Homo sapiens: one gene and its partners. The protein of the gene in region 1 purifies or fractionates together with the protein of each later gene. This does not show direct contact. Each region holds a gene or a part of one and is shown in the gene's direction. Other genes may lie near its edges.

Evidence for each region. Proteins that work in one complex are often made in the same cells at the same time.
Region 2: the proteins of CZIB (region 1) and ERI3 purify together in Homo sapiens (affinity purification with mass spectrometry; one large-scale study listed by BioGRID and IntAct). This does not show direct contact.
Region 3: the proteins of CZIB (region 1) and TNRC6B purify together in Homo sapiens (affinity purification with mass spectrometry; one large-scale study listed by BioGRID and IntAct). This does not show direct contact.

The regions. Positions count from the first base shown.
Region 1 is NC_000001.11:53,212,575-53,218,257, reverse strand, and holds the end of CZIB (CXXC motif containing zinc binding protein), read left to right. Parts: intron 1-54; coding exon 55-86; intron 87-1,398; coding exon 1,399-1,476; intron 1,477-2,201; coding exon 2,202-2,267; intron 2,268-3,521; coding exon 3,522-3,599; 3' UTR 3,600-4,159; downstream 4,160-5,683. Other genes in the region: CPT2 (carnitine O-palmitoyltransferase 2, mitochondrial isoform 1 precursor), read right to left, coding at 4,663-4,994.
Region 2 is NC_000001.11:44,340,773-44,345,919, reverse strand, and holds part of ERI3 (ERI1 exoribonuclease 3), read left to right. Parts: intron 1-5,147.
Region 3 is NC_000022.11:40,264,263-40,269,409, forward strand, and holds part of TNRC6B (trinucleotide repeat-containing gene 6B protein), read left to right. Parts: intron 1-425; coding exon 426-2,774; intron 2,775-5,147.

The DNA.
Region 1 (5,683 bases):
GCTGGGGCGAGGGTATGGACTCAAGTCAACTTTGTGTTCTCTTTTCTATTTCAGAGATTTTAAGCAGCACCATCAAGCCTTACAATGTAAGTTTGCTGCTGTAGTGGCAGGGATGGTGGGCTTAAATCCTAACTGGAGTTAGTAGGTCTGGGTTCTAGAGTCATGCCTGCATCAGAGTGACCTGCCATAGGACATTCACTCATGAACTTAGTTCTTCTTTGACTCAGTCATTTATCCACTGTACACTGAGTGCTTGGTATATTGCCTCTTGCAGTGCCTTCTTATGAGGGCTGGGCTGTGAGAGCTCAGGGGACCTCTGACACAACCTAGCTGTTCAGTTTGCATCACTGAGAGCACTTGCCTTGTCTTCATTTTAGGGGACTAGCAAGCTTTCTCTGAAACCATGGGTGGGGTAGTCGTTTGGTGCATCCCATCCTTTATATCATCAGTGTTAACAAGTTAGCCCAAAGGTGAGGGAGGGTGTGCTTTGGATCTGTTTGTTTAAAGAAAGCCAGTTATATGTATTCACCTATTCCTTATTTGGTATTTATTTAAAGTATCTTGAGTTGTGCCAAATTCTTGGCTTTGTCCTGAAGTTAAAGAGAAATTAAATGAGGACTCGCCTTCACGTACATAATAATCTAGTGGAAAATACAAAAAACAAGAATCGAACTAGGGCCCTAACAGAGAAGTGCCTTACCAGTGCCAGAGATGTGGTCAGTGTGCAGGAAATTACTTTACAGTGAATGACAGGATGAGACTGAATGTAGGGCATGGCACTTGTGGTCCCTAAGCCCATAGGTCAGGTAGGCATGAATTTCCTGGCCACCTGCCCCCCAAGAGGTGCCCCCTCCACATACATAACCATTTCAAAGGCTATAAGACAGCCCTCTGCCCTTACTGCATGGCAGATGGTCAGCAAAAGGCTATGGTTAAGTGTACTGGGTCTGTTTGGATGATCTAGAGACTTTGGAGCTTAACATTCTTGTTCATATTTTTGGTGTTGATAATTTTATTTACTATTTATTGAGCACTGTGCTGGGCACTTTATATGCATTTCAAAATCTGACAGTAAAATTGTAGAGGTTTCCTCGGCTCTATTTGACAGTTTAGGAATCTTGGGCCCAGAGGGGAAGATAGGCAGAGCTTACCTTACATCCAGGCAGGTTGACCCCAGCATCCACGCTCTTCTGCAGCCTCCATGTCTGCTGTCTACAGAAAGCTTCATAGGGAGCAGGTGCCCAAGGCAGGCTTCCTCTAAGAAGGGGATGAGTTCTTCCTGGGTCTCATACTAGGCCTCCAGGGGCAGTAAGTGCCCATTTGGCAGGAAGGAGAGGGGCCATGGGGTCATCCTGAGAGCTCATTTGGGCCTGCCTCCTCAACACACTTCCTTTCTAGGCTGAAGACAATGAGAACTTCAAGACAATAGTGGAGTTTGAGTGCCGGGGCCTTGAACCAGTTGATTTCCAGCCGCAGGTGTGTGTGTATCTTTCTGGGGAATCTTTGTCTTTGGGGAGGGGATGTATGAAGTGACAGCCAGAACTGTGCTACCTACAGATACCATGGACTAGACATTCTCCTTTCTAGCGGTAGTAATAATTGTCCCTTAAGTGGCTGCTGTATGCTTGGGCACCCATGCCATCATTTTTACATGTTACCACATTTAATTCTTATGGTAACCCTATGAATTTATTCATCCTGTTCTTCAGATGAGGAAGGAACTGAAGAGATTTTGCAACTTGCTCAGGGTCACACAGTAAGCAGTGGAGCTATAGTTTCAACCCAGATCTATCTGACTTGAGCTGGTGCTCATCCCCCTTTATTTGTGCATGTTTCACCTCACAACAAATCTGTGAGGTAGGCAGAAGAGCAAATACTTCATCCCCGTTTTATCAATAACTAAGGTCCAACCTGGGAAATGACATGCCCAGGAGCCTTCAGCAAACCAGGGCTAGTGGAAGGGATTACGCTGCCCCTGCTGCCTTCTGGTCCAAGGCTGTAATTCAGAGAAACCACCACTCTAGTTCTGAGGCAGCTGCCGGGTCCTGGAAGCTCAGCAGTTATTCCAAGACAGGTACTCATACTGCATCTCTGTCCTCCATCCCAGAAGTGTGAGAAGAGCCAGCAGCCTGGCCGGCCCTTACTTATAGCCCAATGCCTTCTTTTGCCAAGACTAACTGGTACCTTCTTGTGCCCTGCAGGCTGGGTTTGCTGCTGAAGGTGTGGAGTCAGGGACAGCCTTCAGTGACATTAATCTGCAGGAGAAGGTATGAGACTTGGGGGCTTTGGGAGGTACTGTAGGGCACCTGGTGGGAATTATTTTTTTGGTGGACAAGGCTCATCAATGGAAAGCCAACTCTGTATTTTTGTGCTTTTTGTTAGTGATTTTGCTGTTGAAATGGCCACAGGTATAGTGCTAAAGTGCTTTCTAATGTTCCTACGTATGAGAAAGCTATGATGCCCCTTACAGAGAGAATACGTGTTAGATAAGCTTTATTCAGGCATGAGCTATAGTGCTGCTGGCTGTGAGTTCATGAATCAACAATATATATTAAATAAGTTATCTTTAAACAGAAACACATAAAGCTAGATTATTGATTGGTTGATGAAAATGTGACCAGAGGCTCATAGGAACCTAACCCTGTATTTCCCCGGGGAGTATTCATTCAGTATTCCCTAATTCAGTGTTTGTGGTGGCTTTACTGCACCTAACTACCATGAAGAACAAGAAATAGTCTGTATTACTGGACATATTACTACCCTGCAGATAGAAAAGCCTTGTGCTCAAGCCTTGAAGGAAGGACAAAAACTTCATTTCATTTGCTCAGCACCTAATAACAGCAGCTAGCATCTACTGAGCTCTTACATGTGCCAGGCACTCACTATGCTGAGTGCTTTTATTTTATTTTATGTATTTTTTGAGACAATCTCACTCTGTCGCCCAGGCTGGAGTGCAGTGGTGCAATGTCAGCTCACTGCAACCTCTGCCTCCTGGGCTCAAGTGATCCTCCTACCTCAGCCTCCCAAGTAGCTGGGATTACAGGCGCCTGCCACCATTCCTGGCTATTTTTTGTATTTTTAGTAGAGACCGGGTTTCACCTTGTTGGCCAGGATGGTCTCGGACCCCTGACCTGAAATGATCCACCTGCCTTGGCCTCCCAAAGTGCTGGGATTACAGGCATGAGCCACCACGCCCGGCTGCTGAGTGCTTTTAAATGTGTTACCTCATTTGATTCTTTCAACATTCAATATGAACTCCATTGTCCTTTTTTTGTTTTTGTTTTTTTTAAATAGAAGACAGGACTCGGAGAAGGGACTCAGAGAAGTTAAGTGATTTGCCCACAGTCATACAACTGAAAGAGCTAGAATTCAGGCCTGAGCTATCTGGCTCTGTTCAGGGTCATACATGTTCATGATTATTTGAGTCAGAGCCTGAGCTGGGCCTTTTAAGTCCCAGTTTTCTGCTCTCCACATGGCTGCATTCTGCGTTGTGAGGCTAACAATGCCATTTTGTTTCCCAGGACTGGACTGACTATGATGAAAAGGCCCAGGAGTCTGTGGGAATCTATGAGGTCACCCACCAGTTTGTGAAGTGCTGATCCCTCTTCCTTCCCAGTTGCCCTTAAGAACTGAGAAAGGACAAAGTACTCTAAGCAGCAGAGCCCACAGAGGCTCGTTCCTTTGACCCTTGTCTCCTGGTGGCTATACGAAACCTTCACAATCTGCATGCTGGACTTTATTACAGCTTCCCAAGCCCCATCAATAAAGCCCCTGTTCACGCTGCACTGGTGCATGAAGGTGAAGTAAGGAGGCAGCTACTCCCTCCACAAATAAGAATTCGTGCAGCAGCAGTTCACTCCTTAGGAAAATGAAGAGTATTTTTAAGGAGATGGTATCTCCCCAGTCAAGGGCAAGTTTACAGAGATGAAACCGCGATCCCACCATCACTCAATGAGCCAGAAGCCAATGGTGACGTACTGTTACCTGAACTTACTGAACTTGCTGTTGGAAAGATCTTTGTGAGGATTAGGAATTAGGTTAAAAGAAATTAAGAACCATCTTCAAGCAAAAATTAAACTTTATTTCTGCTTAAACAATAAATACACCTGAGTTAGTTTTCCAAACCTTTCCTCCTGATTAAATGCCCTTAAAACTTAAATCTCTTGTTATCTTCAGTTGTGATCTAGTCCCAAGTGGAAATTACGTTTAGCTTTAAAACCATGAATTTAAAGCTCAAGCCTGTAGCTGGCTGCCTAGGCAGCTTATGATTAGTTTCACAGAATAGCACCCACTGGCTACACAGGCCCCAGTTTTTTTTTCTTTTTTGTTTTTTTGAGACAGTCTCGCTCTGTCGCCCAGGCCGGAGTGCAGTGGTGTGATCTCAGCTCACTGCAACCTCCACCTCCTGGGTTCAAGCAATTCTGCTTCAACCTCCCAAGTAGCTGGGATTATAGGCACATGCCACCACACCCAGCTAATTTTTGTATTTTTAGTAGAGACAAGGTTTCACCATGTTGGCCAGGTTGGTCTCAAACTCCTGACCTCAAGTGATCCACCCGCCTCAGCCTCTCAAAATGCTGGGATTACAGGCATGAGCCACCATGCCCGGCCTCCCAGTTTTCATGATGAGGAAGTGATGGTAGCTTTTCATCTGCCCAGAAGTTAACTTTTGATGGATTTGCCTTCTAAGGCATCAAACATGTCTTCTAAGGCCTTCTCCACACATTGGAGAAACTCCCGGGCATTGCGGCCTGGGTAGGAAGAGACATTGCAGCCTATCCAGTTGTCATGAACAGCATACCCAACACCAAAGCCATCAGAGACCACAGGGGCAAAGCCCCCAAGGTTCACTGCTGGGCTGCTCAGTGTGCTCGTGGACAGGACATTGTGGTTTATCTGCCCGTATGCAGGGTCCAGGTAGAGCTCAGGCAAGATGATCCCTTTGGCTGCTGCCAGATGCCGCAGAGCAAACAAGTGTCGGTCAAAGCCCTGGCCTGTGAGAAACAAAATGGAAAACCAGAGTCTCAGGATGGAAAAGGACCTCAGGAAAACCTCCCAACTCACCACATGGTAGGAATACCCCTCACAGCATCCTTGAGAGTGGGGGAAGGCTCTACCTCTATGCACACCACCAACTGACTAACCTTCAGAGCAGCTCAAGCTAGATTATTTTAAATTATTTAGGAAATATATTATGTCATGTTACATTTAAAAATAGCTGTCAACAGCTGAGCTAAAAATGAGCCTAAAAGGAAAGCATAATTTTAAAGATGTGAAATCAGTTTAGTCAAAGAGTCAAGACAGTACAGGAAGACAGCTATGGACTCAAAAACTACAATAAAACTAAAAGTCTGATTCAAGTGTAAAAGAGAAGATTGAGTCAGTGGAACAAAATGGAAAGTCTGTTTGACCAGGGTTCGAATCTCAGTCTTACTACTAACTTGCTGTGTAACGGGGCCAGTGGCTTGGTTTTCTCCCTATAAAATGGAGGAAGAGAAGATTAGAATGTCTTGGAGGTCCCTTTCACTTCCAGCACTTCATAGCAACATGAAAGGACAACTATGACCCTCCAGGTCCTTTCCAGGTCTTGAATTTTATCAAAAAAAGGTAATGACGGATGACAATTGAGAAGAGCTTCTGAGATAACCTGTTTACAGAGAGCAGACACATTACAACTGAGGTG
Region 2 (5,147 bases), 8.9 Mb from region 1:
CCTGAGACCCTGGCCTTGGAGTTGAGAGCCTGGGTTCTATTCTTACTATTTCTTGCAGTGTGAACCTTGGGCAGTCCTTTTCTCTTTCTAATCTCATTTTCCCTGGCTGGTTGGACTGTGTTGCCTCTTAGGTTTTCTTTCACCTTTGACAGTTTGTTTTTCACACAGAGAGTGCTCTGGCAGTAAGGATATATTCATTAGATTGAAGATTATGACTTTTGAAGGGATGCAGTTTATTTGTATTTTTTCCCAGGCTATTTTTAGCTGCTTGAGACAAAGCCAGTGACTGAGTTCCAGACAGGTATTACTGTGTTTTTTGTTGTTGTTTCTGTGACTCAGGTGCCTGAGCACTTGTGATACTGCAGGTCAGATTGGGTTGGGGACTTACACCAGGACTGAGAACTGAGGAAGCTATGATTGTTGTATTCCTAGGTGCTTTCAGTCAGCTGGACTCAGAACCTGTTGCAGGTAACTTGGAGTTACTTGGATGTATCCCTGCCTCCTAGTCTGGCTTTTAATGGAATGAATTGAATCCAGGGGTGGTATAAACATACACCATCCCAGAGATCCCAAGTACATGTGGCTGGGGAGGTGGAAGTGGGAGTAGACCACCTGTTTCACAGTGGCCTCCTCTTGTTTTCCCATCCTGAGGACTCCCTTGGCCTGTGTGTGTGGATGTTAAAGGTTGACCCCCTCTGCTCACCCCTCCAGTAATGGAGGCTATAAAATGTCTATTTACCCAAGACACCAGAACGACTCCTCTGTGGTTCCTCTAATCTGGTGATTTGGTGCTTCTTTGGTCTCTCAGGTAAATACAGATTGAGTCTTTTTATAAAGGCATATTATTTCCCTCATTAAATGTGTGTTTTGGCACATGTGTTATTTACCTGATAGACAGTAATGGCTGCAGAGGAGCCATTGGTGTCTGTTGTGTAAATACTCTGCACAGAGACCATCCTCCAGGGGCTCTGGCGCAGGCCTGCTTCTCCAAATCGGGCTGGCCCCGTGGCAGTCCCATTTACCCCTCCCCTGTCCCCACTGGGGACCTGGGCCCTTCATATTGAGGAGAGAATCATTCATTTTCCTCCTTGCCATGGGCTACTTAATACCTTTAATTTGCTAGGAGACGGAAAAGGATGTCTGAGAATAAATGTGTATAAATCTTAGTCTCTGATGAAAGATAGTTTGCAGAAATAGGCAGAATCATAAACTTTCTTTTGAGTTCTGGCCCTCATTTAGATACTCAAAGTCCCAGTTGATATTATAAGCTATAGACTTATAGCCTGCAAATTTGTGACTAAAACATAAAGACATCAATAGAAAAGAGAAATCCCTAAGACACCGGAGGGTGCAAGGGCAAGTGGGATGCTGCTGCAGGGAGCAGGTGTGTTTCCTGAGAAGGCTGTATGGTAGCAGGAGTGCCAGTGAAGTGGGCATTGAGTAGGGGCTCTTCTGATGGAAACTCGGCTGGATAGAGATACTGTTTGGGCTGAGAGATGCTTTGAGCCTCTCTACCAGAGAGAACATGCAGCCTACCTTCTGTGGGCATTACAGGGAGATCTGTCTCTTCAAATACTGTCTGTGTGATATTTTTAATTTTAAAATTGTAACCACATTGCACATGGATTTTAAAAAACAATTTTATTTATTTATTTATTTATTTATTTATTTATTTATTTATTTATTGAGATGGAGTCTCTGTCACCCAGGCTGGAGTGTAGTGATGTGATCTCAGTTCACTGCAAACCCTGCCTCCTAGGTTCAAGCGATTCTCCTGCCTCAGCCCCCTGAGTCACTGGATTACAGGGGTGTGCTACCATGCCTGGCTAATTTTTGTATTTTTAGTAGAGATGGGGTTTTGCCATGTTGCCCAGGCTGGTCTTGAACTCCTGACCTCAAGCGATCTGCCTGCCTTGGCCTCCCAGAGTGCTGGGATTACAGATGTGAGCCACCCCACCCAGCTGATTTTAAAAAACAATTTTAAAAAAACGTTTGAAACAGCCCAAATTTACATAAAAGTTGTAAGTACAGTAGAAAGAATTTTTTCCCTGAACCATTTGAGGGTTAAGTTGCCGACCTAATGCCCCATCACCCTGAATGCTTGGTGTGCATTTCCTATAAACAAGGACATTTTCCTACCTAGTCAAAATACAACCATCAAAATCAGGAAATTAACATTGATATAAAACCTCTATATAAACCTTGGACCCCATTAAAGTTTTGCCAGTTGTCCTAGGAATGTTCTTTGCAGCAAAGTGATCCAGTTCAGAATCGTGGGTTGCATTTGGTTATCAAGTCTCTAGTCTCCTTTAGACTTTCCTCAGTAAACGTTCCTTGGCATTCATGACCTTGATACTTTTGAAGATTACAGGCTGGTTATTGTTTAGATTGTCTCTCAATTAGGGTTTGTGTGACATTTTCTCATGATTAGATTTAGGTTGTGTAGCTTCAGGAATATAACAGAAATGATGCTTTGTTCTTCTCGTCGTGTGATTTTGATTTATCCCATTATTGATAATGTTCACTTTGATCACTTGATTAAGGTGATGTCTGCCAGGCTTCTCCATCATAAAATTACTACTAGTTGTAATTAATAAGTATTTTGTGGGGTGATACTTTGAAACTATGTAAATATCTCACATCAAAGTTTAATTTTATTGATTTATATCTTTATGGACTCATGGTTTTCTATTCAGTGCATTATAATCCATTACTATCATTGTTTCTTGGCCAGTGGGTGGCTTCTGTATCCTTTTGGTATGTTCCCATCATTATTTGGGTGTTTCCTTGCTTTCTGATACAAGATGTTATGCGCTCATCTTGTATTTCTCTTGCTGCATCCCTGGAATCAGCCATTTCTCTAAGGACCTCTGTTTCTTTTAGTGGGGAATGGTATTTAGAAGGCAACTGGGGCTGGGTGCTGTGGCCCATGCCTGTAATCCCAGCACTTTGGGATGCCAAGGTGGGAAGAACATTTGAGCCTAGGAATTTAAGACCAGCCTGGGCAACGTAGTGAGACTCTTATCTCTACAAAAAAAAAAAAAAAAAAAAAAAAAAAAAAATATATATATATATATATATATATATATATATATATATATATATATTAGCTGGATGTGGTGGCACATGCCTGTGGTCCAAGCTACTTGGGAGGCTGAAGTGGGAAGATTGCTTGAGCGTGGGAGTTCGAGGCTGCAGTGAGCTATGATTGTGCCGCTGCACTGCAGCCTGGGCAACAGAGCAAGACCCTGTCTTCAAAAAAAAAACAAGAAGGCAATGGAGTGCTAGGTGTGCTCATTGCCATTGTTACTGCTCCCTGGCTCTTCCTTAAATAGAGCTAGAAAATATATATGCATATGTGTGTATATTTGTGTGTGTGTGTGTATCCATCTATCTATCTGATACACATCTAATCAGAAACCATGAGTTCACATTCTTCCTGCCAATTCCAATCCAACACCACAGATTTTCTCCCTTTCCATATTTTAACTCCTTTCTCTTAACAGTGAGAAACCTGGGTCCCATTATGCTTAATATATGCACTTCTTTGATCAGTTCCTCTGTAGGTAGCTAATCCTCATTACTGCCACTGCCCTTTACCCTTCATGAGTGCCTCTTTTACCCTGCGTGTGTCACCCCACATCAGACTGCCAGCCGACATGGATGCTCTCCACATCCCCCTCGGCTCTGACATGCTGCACCACACCTTCCCACTTCTGCAAGGATGTCTTCCTCACCCTGCCTGGGCTCTGACAGTGTCCCCCAGACCTCTCTGGCTCACCCTACTCCACCCGTTGTAGATATCTGCCCTCTTCTGCTGCACCTAATGGCTTTAGGATTGAGTTTTTCAGGAAGGGAAGAGGAAGAGCTACCCTCTGTTTCTTGACTTGAACTGAGCTTGGTTGTTAGAAGTAAGGGAAGTGTGGAATCCAGTAACTGCTGATATGTGGAGGCCTGACCTCCTAATGTCTACTCTCAAGACTTCCTACGAGAGAAGTTTTTTTGTTTTGTTTTGTTTTGTTTTGTTTTTGAATTATGGTCTTGCTCTGTCACCCAGACTGGAGTGCAGTGGCTCCATCACAGCTCACTGTAGCCTCAACCTCCTGGGCTCAAGTGATCTTCCTACTTCAGCCTACCAAGTAGCTGGGACTACAGGCATGCAGCACCCCGCCTGGCTAATTTTTAATTTATTTTTTGTAGAGATTGGGTCTCACTATGTTTCCCAGGCTGGTTTCGAACTCCTGGGCTCAAGCAATACTTCTGCCTCAGCCTCCCACAGTGCTGGGATTACAGGTGCAGTCACTGTGCTTGGCCAAAAGAAGCTTTTTGATGTAGATGAAATCAGGTGAGAAAGCAAGGCCTGCAGGCAAGAGGACCACTGGCCATCAGAATAGGGTATATATAGTATGCTCTGTCAGAGGTCTGGAGCATTTTAGGGTTGCAGAAGACATCGATATTACTCTCTGAGGCTGCCTTATGAATTAATTGGATTTGTAGGCCCAGAATCTGGGGATCCAGGCTTGGCCAGGTGGGCATAGCCCAATAGGATAGTAGTAATAACATTAGGATAATATATATTAGGCTGTTATATGCCAGGCACTGGTCTTAGTGCTTTACATGTGTTGTCTCATTTTGTTCTCACTTAAGGAGTAGGTGCTATTGTTATTGTCATTTTACAGATGAGGAATTGAAGAACACAGCATGCCCAAGGTGCCATGGGTAGTAAGTGGTAAAGCTAGGATTCAAACTTGGAAGCCCTCCTTACTCATCATGCTTAATTGCTTATAGTATTTGGTAGACAGGATTGACTGACTGTATATACTACGCATATTCTGTGCACACTGTAGAACATTAGGACTTTCAGAAGTCTTTACACTTTTTTATGGGGTTAGAGAAGAGTCTAAGTCCTTGAGGGACTTTGGATCCAAACTAGAATGGGTAATTTGAGCAGACTGGTGTCTTCCATCTCATTAAGGCTTCCAGTACTATTCAGGAATAGGCGATGAGAAGATTCTGGCTTTCAAAGGGATATTGGCCCTCTTGCCCTTCCAGGAGACTCCATATTGAAACTCAAGCCAGCGTTTGTCTACCTGGGCTGAGTTTTGGCTGTATTTTTGGTGAGGCTATAAAGCAGTGGTGAAAACAAG
Region 3 (5,147 bases), on another chromosome or scaffold:
TTCAGCTTTATTCTTGTGCACTAAGGAACTGTTGAAGGTTCTCCATACAGCAGTGATATAATCAAAAGTGTGCTTTAGAAAGATTGCTCCAGCCAGGGGTGTTTAGAGTAGGTTGAAGATACAGAGCAAGTTTAGAGTGCCATTGCTATTGCCTTGTCCCAAGATACAAGAAGGCCCTTCTCTGTCAATAGGAATGGCAAAGGACGTAGCTTTGAGAGAGATGAAGTTAGACTTAACCGGTGTAACACAAGGCAAATGAAAAAAAAGAGATGACTAAGACAGTTGTGATACAAGCAACTGGGTTGAGAGAAACTGGCATGTGATCAGCTCTCCTAAGGGCAGAGCTCAAAGGAGAGCCCCTTTGAGGGATTAATGGGTAATGAATGCATTTGAAGCTGTGATTAATAAGATGATCTGTTCCCCAGACTCAACCCTTGGAGGTGCTGCTGCTTCAAATTATGCAAATTCCACTTGGGGCTCGGGAGCCTCCTCCAACAACGGCACCTCCCCCAACCCAATTCACATCTGGGACAAGGTGATTGTAGACGGGTCTGACATGGAAGAGTGGCCTTGTATTGCCAGCAAAGACACTGAATCTTCTTCCGAAAACACCACCGATAACAACAGTGCCTCGAACCCTGGCTCTGAGAAGAGCACTCTGCCAGGAAGCACCACTAGTAACAAAGGAAAAGGGAGCCAGTGCCAGTCTGCAAGTTCTGGGAACGAATGTAATCTTGGGGTCTGGAAATCTGACCCTAAGGCTAAATCTGTTCAATCTTCCAACTCTACTACAGAGAACAACAATGGACTAGGAAATTGGAGGAATGTGAGTGGTCAGGATAGAATTGGACCTGGCTCTGGCTTCAGCAACTTTAACCCAAATAGCAACCCATCTGCCTGGCCAGCACTGGTCCAAGAAGGAACTTCTAGGAAAGGGGCATTGGAAACAGATAATAGTAATTCCAGTGCACAGGTTAGCACAGTAGGTCAGACATCCAGGGAACAGCAGTCAAAGATGGAAAATGCGGGTGTTAATTTTGTTGTCTCTGGCAGAGAACAGGCTCAAATTCATAACACTGATGGACCAAAAAATGGAAACACTAACTCCTTGAACTTAAGTTCACCAAACCCCATGGAGAATAAGGGAATGCCCTTTGGAATGGGCTTGGGGAACACCTCCAGGAGCACTGATGCCCCTTCACAAAGCACTGGAGATCGAAAGACTGGGAGTGTTGGATCTTGGGGTGCAGCTAGGGGGCCTTCTGGAACTGACACAGTCTCTGGACAAAGCAATTCTGGAAACAATGGGAACAATGGAAAAGAGAGAGAGGACTCCTGGAAAGGAGCTTCTGTTCAGAAATCAACTGGGTCAAAAAATGACTCTTGGGACAACAATAACAGGTCTACGGGTGGGTCCTGGAACTTTGGCCCCCAGGACTCTAATGACAACAAATGGGGTGAAGGGAACAAAATGACATCTGGGGTCTCTCAGGGAGAATGGAAACAGCCGACTGGGTCTGATGAGTTGAAAATTGGAGAATGGAGTGGTCCAAACCAACCAAATTCTAGCACTGGAGCATGGGACAATCAAAAGGGCCACCCCCTCCCTGAAAACCAAGGCAATGCCCAGGCTCCCTGTTGGGGAAGATCTTCCAGCTCCACAGGAAGTGAAGTTGGAGGTCAAAGCACTGGAAGCAACCACAAAGCAGGAAGTAGTGACAGTCATAACTCTGGCCGTCGGTCGTACAGGCCCACACATCCTGATTGTCAGGCTGTCTTGCAGACTCTTTTGAGCCGAACTGATTTGGACCCCAGGGTGCTCTCAAACACTGGCTGGGGCCAAACTCAAATTAAGCAGGACACAGTGTGGGACATTGAAGAGGTGCCAAGGCCTGAGGGGAAATCTGACAAAGGAACTGAGGGGTGGGAGAGCGCTGCCACACAGACCAAGAACTCAGGGGGCTGGGGAGATGCACCCAGCCAAAGCAATCAAATGAAGTCTGGATGGGGGGAGCTCTCAGCCTCTACAGAGTGGAAAGACCCCAAGAACACAGGAGGCTGGAATGACTACAAGAACAACAACTCTTCCAACTGGGGAGGAGGACGACCTGATGAAAAGACACCTTCCTCTTGGAATGAGAATCCCAGCAAGGATCAGGGGTGGGGAGGTGGACGCCAGCCCAATCAAGGATGGTCTTCTGGAAAGAATGGTTGGGGGGAGGAAGTCGATCAGACAAAAAACAGCAATTGGGAAAGTTCTGCAAGTAAACCTGTGTCTGGGTGGGGTGAAGGAGGGCAGAATGAAATCGGGACTTGGGGTAATGGTGGCAATGCAAGCCTAGCTTCAAAAGGTGGGTGGGAGGATTGCAAAAGATCCCCAGCATGGAATGAGACGGGCCGACAGCCCAATTCCTGGAATAAACAACACCAACAGCAGCAGCCCCCACAGCAGCCGCCGCCACCACAACCAGAGGCTTCTGGTTCGTGGGGAGGCCCACCCCCACCACCTCCAGGCAACGTTCGACCTTCCAATTCCAGCTGGAGCAGCGGGCCACAGCCTGCAACACCTAAGGATGAGGAACCCAGTGGTTGGGAAGAGCCATCCCCACAGTCAATTAGTCGGAAAATGGACATTGATGATGGCACTTCAGCATGGGGAGACCCTAACAGTTATAACTACAAGAATGTGAATCTGTGGGATAAGAATTCCCAAGGGGGCCCAGCACCTCGAGAACCAAACCTGCCCACCCCAATGACCAGTAAATCGGCATCAGGTAAGCAGTGGCTTTCTCTTGCAGCTTTTGATGAAGAAAAGGAATCCTAGACCAAGGCATTTTTATTAGGTGAATTTATTCAACTTAGTTTTGTTCTGAGATGCTTTCCTACAGTTTCTACTCTGTTGCTAACAGAACCTCTTTTTATGAAATGCTAGTGATGGCAGATGCTGGTAGTACATTTTAATGTTCTTTCTTGGCAAAAGGAAAAGATGACAACCCTGTGTTAGTCCCCAAAATTATTTTTCTGTAATTGTATTGGTCTGCAGAATCCAAAAGACATATCTTGCCAAACAAACTATGTTCTAGATTTTAAAATAAAGAATTAAAGTAGTAGCAGAAATAGACCTGATTTCCATTCTGGTTCTACCCATGGACATGTCTCTGCTTCTGTTTCCCCAGCAAAGGGAAATAATTCTGTGTTTTTCCAAAGGCCATGATGATGCTGAAGCAAAGCTGGATCTGGAAGGTTTCAGTCTCTTTCTGGATGATTTTTAATGATTACCTCTGGAATGGGAGTACTTTGTATAAGAGATTGTTATCTCAGTCCTAGTGAGATGGCTCACACCTGTAATCCCAGCACTATGGGAGACTAGGGCAGGAGGATCCCTTGAGCCCAGGAGTTTGAGACCAGCCTGGGCAACCTAGAGAGACTTCAGTCTCTACAAAAATATTTTTTAAAAATCAGACGGGTGTGGTGCATGTGCATATAGTCCCACCTACTCTAGAGGCTGAGGTAAGAGGATCGCCTAAGCCCTGGAGATGGGAGGCTGTAGGGAGCTATGATCTCACCACTGCACTCCAGTTTGGGAGACAGAGCGAGACCCTGTTGCCAAAAAAAAAAGAGCGATTGTTAGGATAGTCAGTTGCCCAGAATTAAACTTTCTTCCGTCACTATTTGAATAGGAAACATCATACCTGGTAAAAGTAGCAATGGTAATGCCATTCTTAGTTTGTCATTGTCAACTTGAATGTCCCTATAGAGCATATAGTTCAACAAATTAAGGGGGATGCACCTTTCAGTCTTTTTTTAGTTAAAATTAATATTAAGAACCAGTTTTCTTTTTTTGAGACAGAGTCTCACTCTGTTGCCCAGGCTGGAGTGCAGTGGCACGATCTCGGCTCGCTATAACCTCCGTGCCAAGTTCAAGTGATTCTCTTGCCTCAGCCTCCTGAGTAGTTGGGATTACAGGCACCCACTGCCATGCCCAGCTAATGTTTGTATTTTTAGTAGAGACAGGATTTCACCATGTTGGCCAGGGTGGTCTCAGACTCCTGACCTCAGGTGATCCACCCGCCTCAGTCTACCAAAGTGCTGGGATTACAGGCATGAGCCACTGTGCCCAGCCAAGAATCAGTTTTCTCCGAGTACACCTCTAGTGTTCAGCTAATCCATTTGTGGCCTCTTAGAAAAATGATTACTTTTAACTCATTCTTTTTTCAAGTATTGAAAAGAATGAGGAAGGAAATGAAGATTTCTCACTGGCTCCCCATGCAGAATAAAACCTGCTAAAATTTTAAAAAGCTACATCCACATAGCAAAAACCTTCAAACTGTGTGGAAAAGCAAAAGATAGTCAATAAAATAATCTTTGGCCAGGCGCGGTGGCTCACGCCTGTAATCCCAGCACTTTGGGAGGCCGAGGCGGACAGATCATGAGGTCAGGAGATCGAGACCATCTTGGCTAACACGGTGAAACCCCGCCTCTACTAAAAAATCGAAAAAATTAGCCAGGCGTGGTGGCGGGCACCTGTAGTCCCAGCTACTCGGGAGGCTGAGGCAGGAGAATGGGGTGAACCCAGGAGATGGAGCTTGCAAGTGAGCTGAGATCACGCCACTGCACTCCAGCCTGGGCGACAGAGCAAGACTCCGTCTCAAAAAATAATAATAATAATAATAATAATAATAATCTTAACCCCTAGGGTCTCTTCCCAAAGGTAATCTCTTAGAAGTTTGTGTCCCATTCAAAAATTTTACAGAGAAGGGATTGTACTTCGTATACTGTTCTTCACCTTGCTTTTCTCATTATACTTATAGCTTCCAATTTTAGCACATAGTCTGCTGCTTAATTGCTTCATATACAGTATTTCTTTTTTTTTTTTTTTTTTTTTTTTTTTGAGAGGGAGTCTCACTGTCTCCCAGGCTGGAGTGCAGTGGCGCAATCTTGGCTCACTGCAACCTCCACCTCCCGGGTTCAAGTGAGCCTCCTTCTCAGCCTCCCGAATAGCTGGGATTACAGGCATGCGTCGTCACGCCCAGCTAATTTTTGTATTTTTTGCTGGAGATGGGGTTTTGCCATGTGGGTCTGGCTAGTCTTGAACTCCTGACCTCAGGAGATCCACCCGCCTTGGCTCCTAAAGTGCTGGGATAACA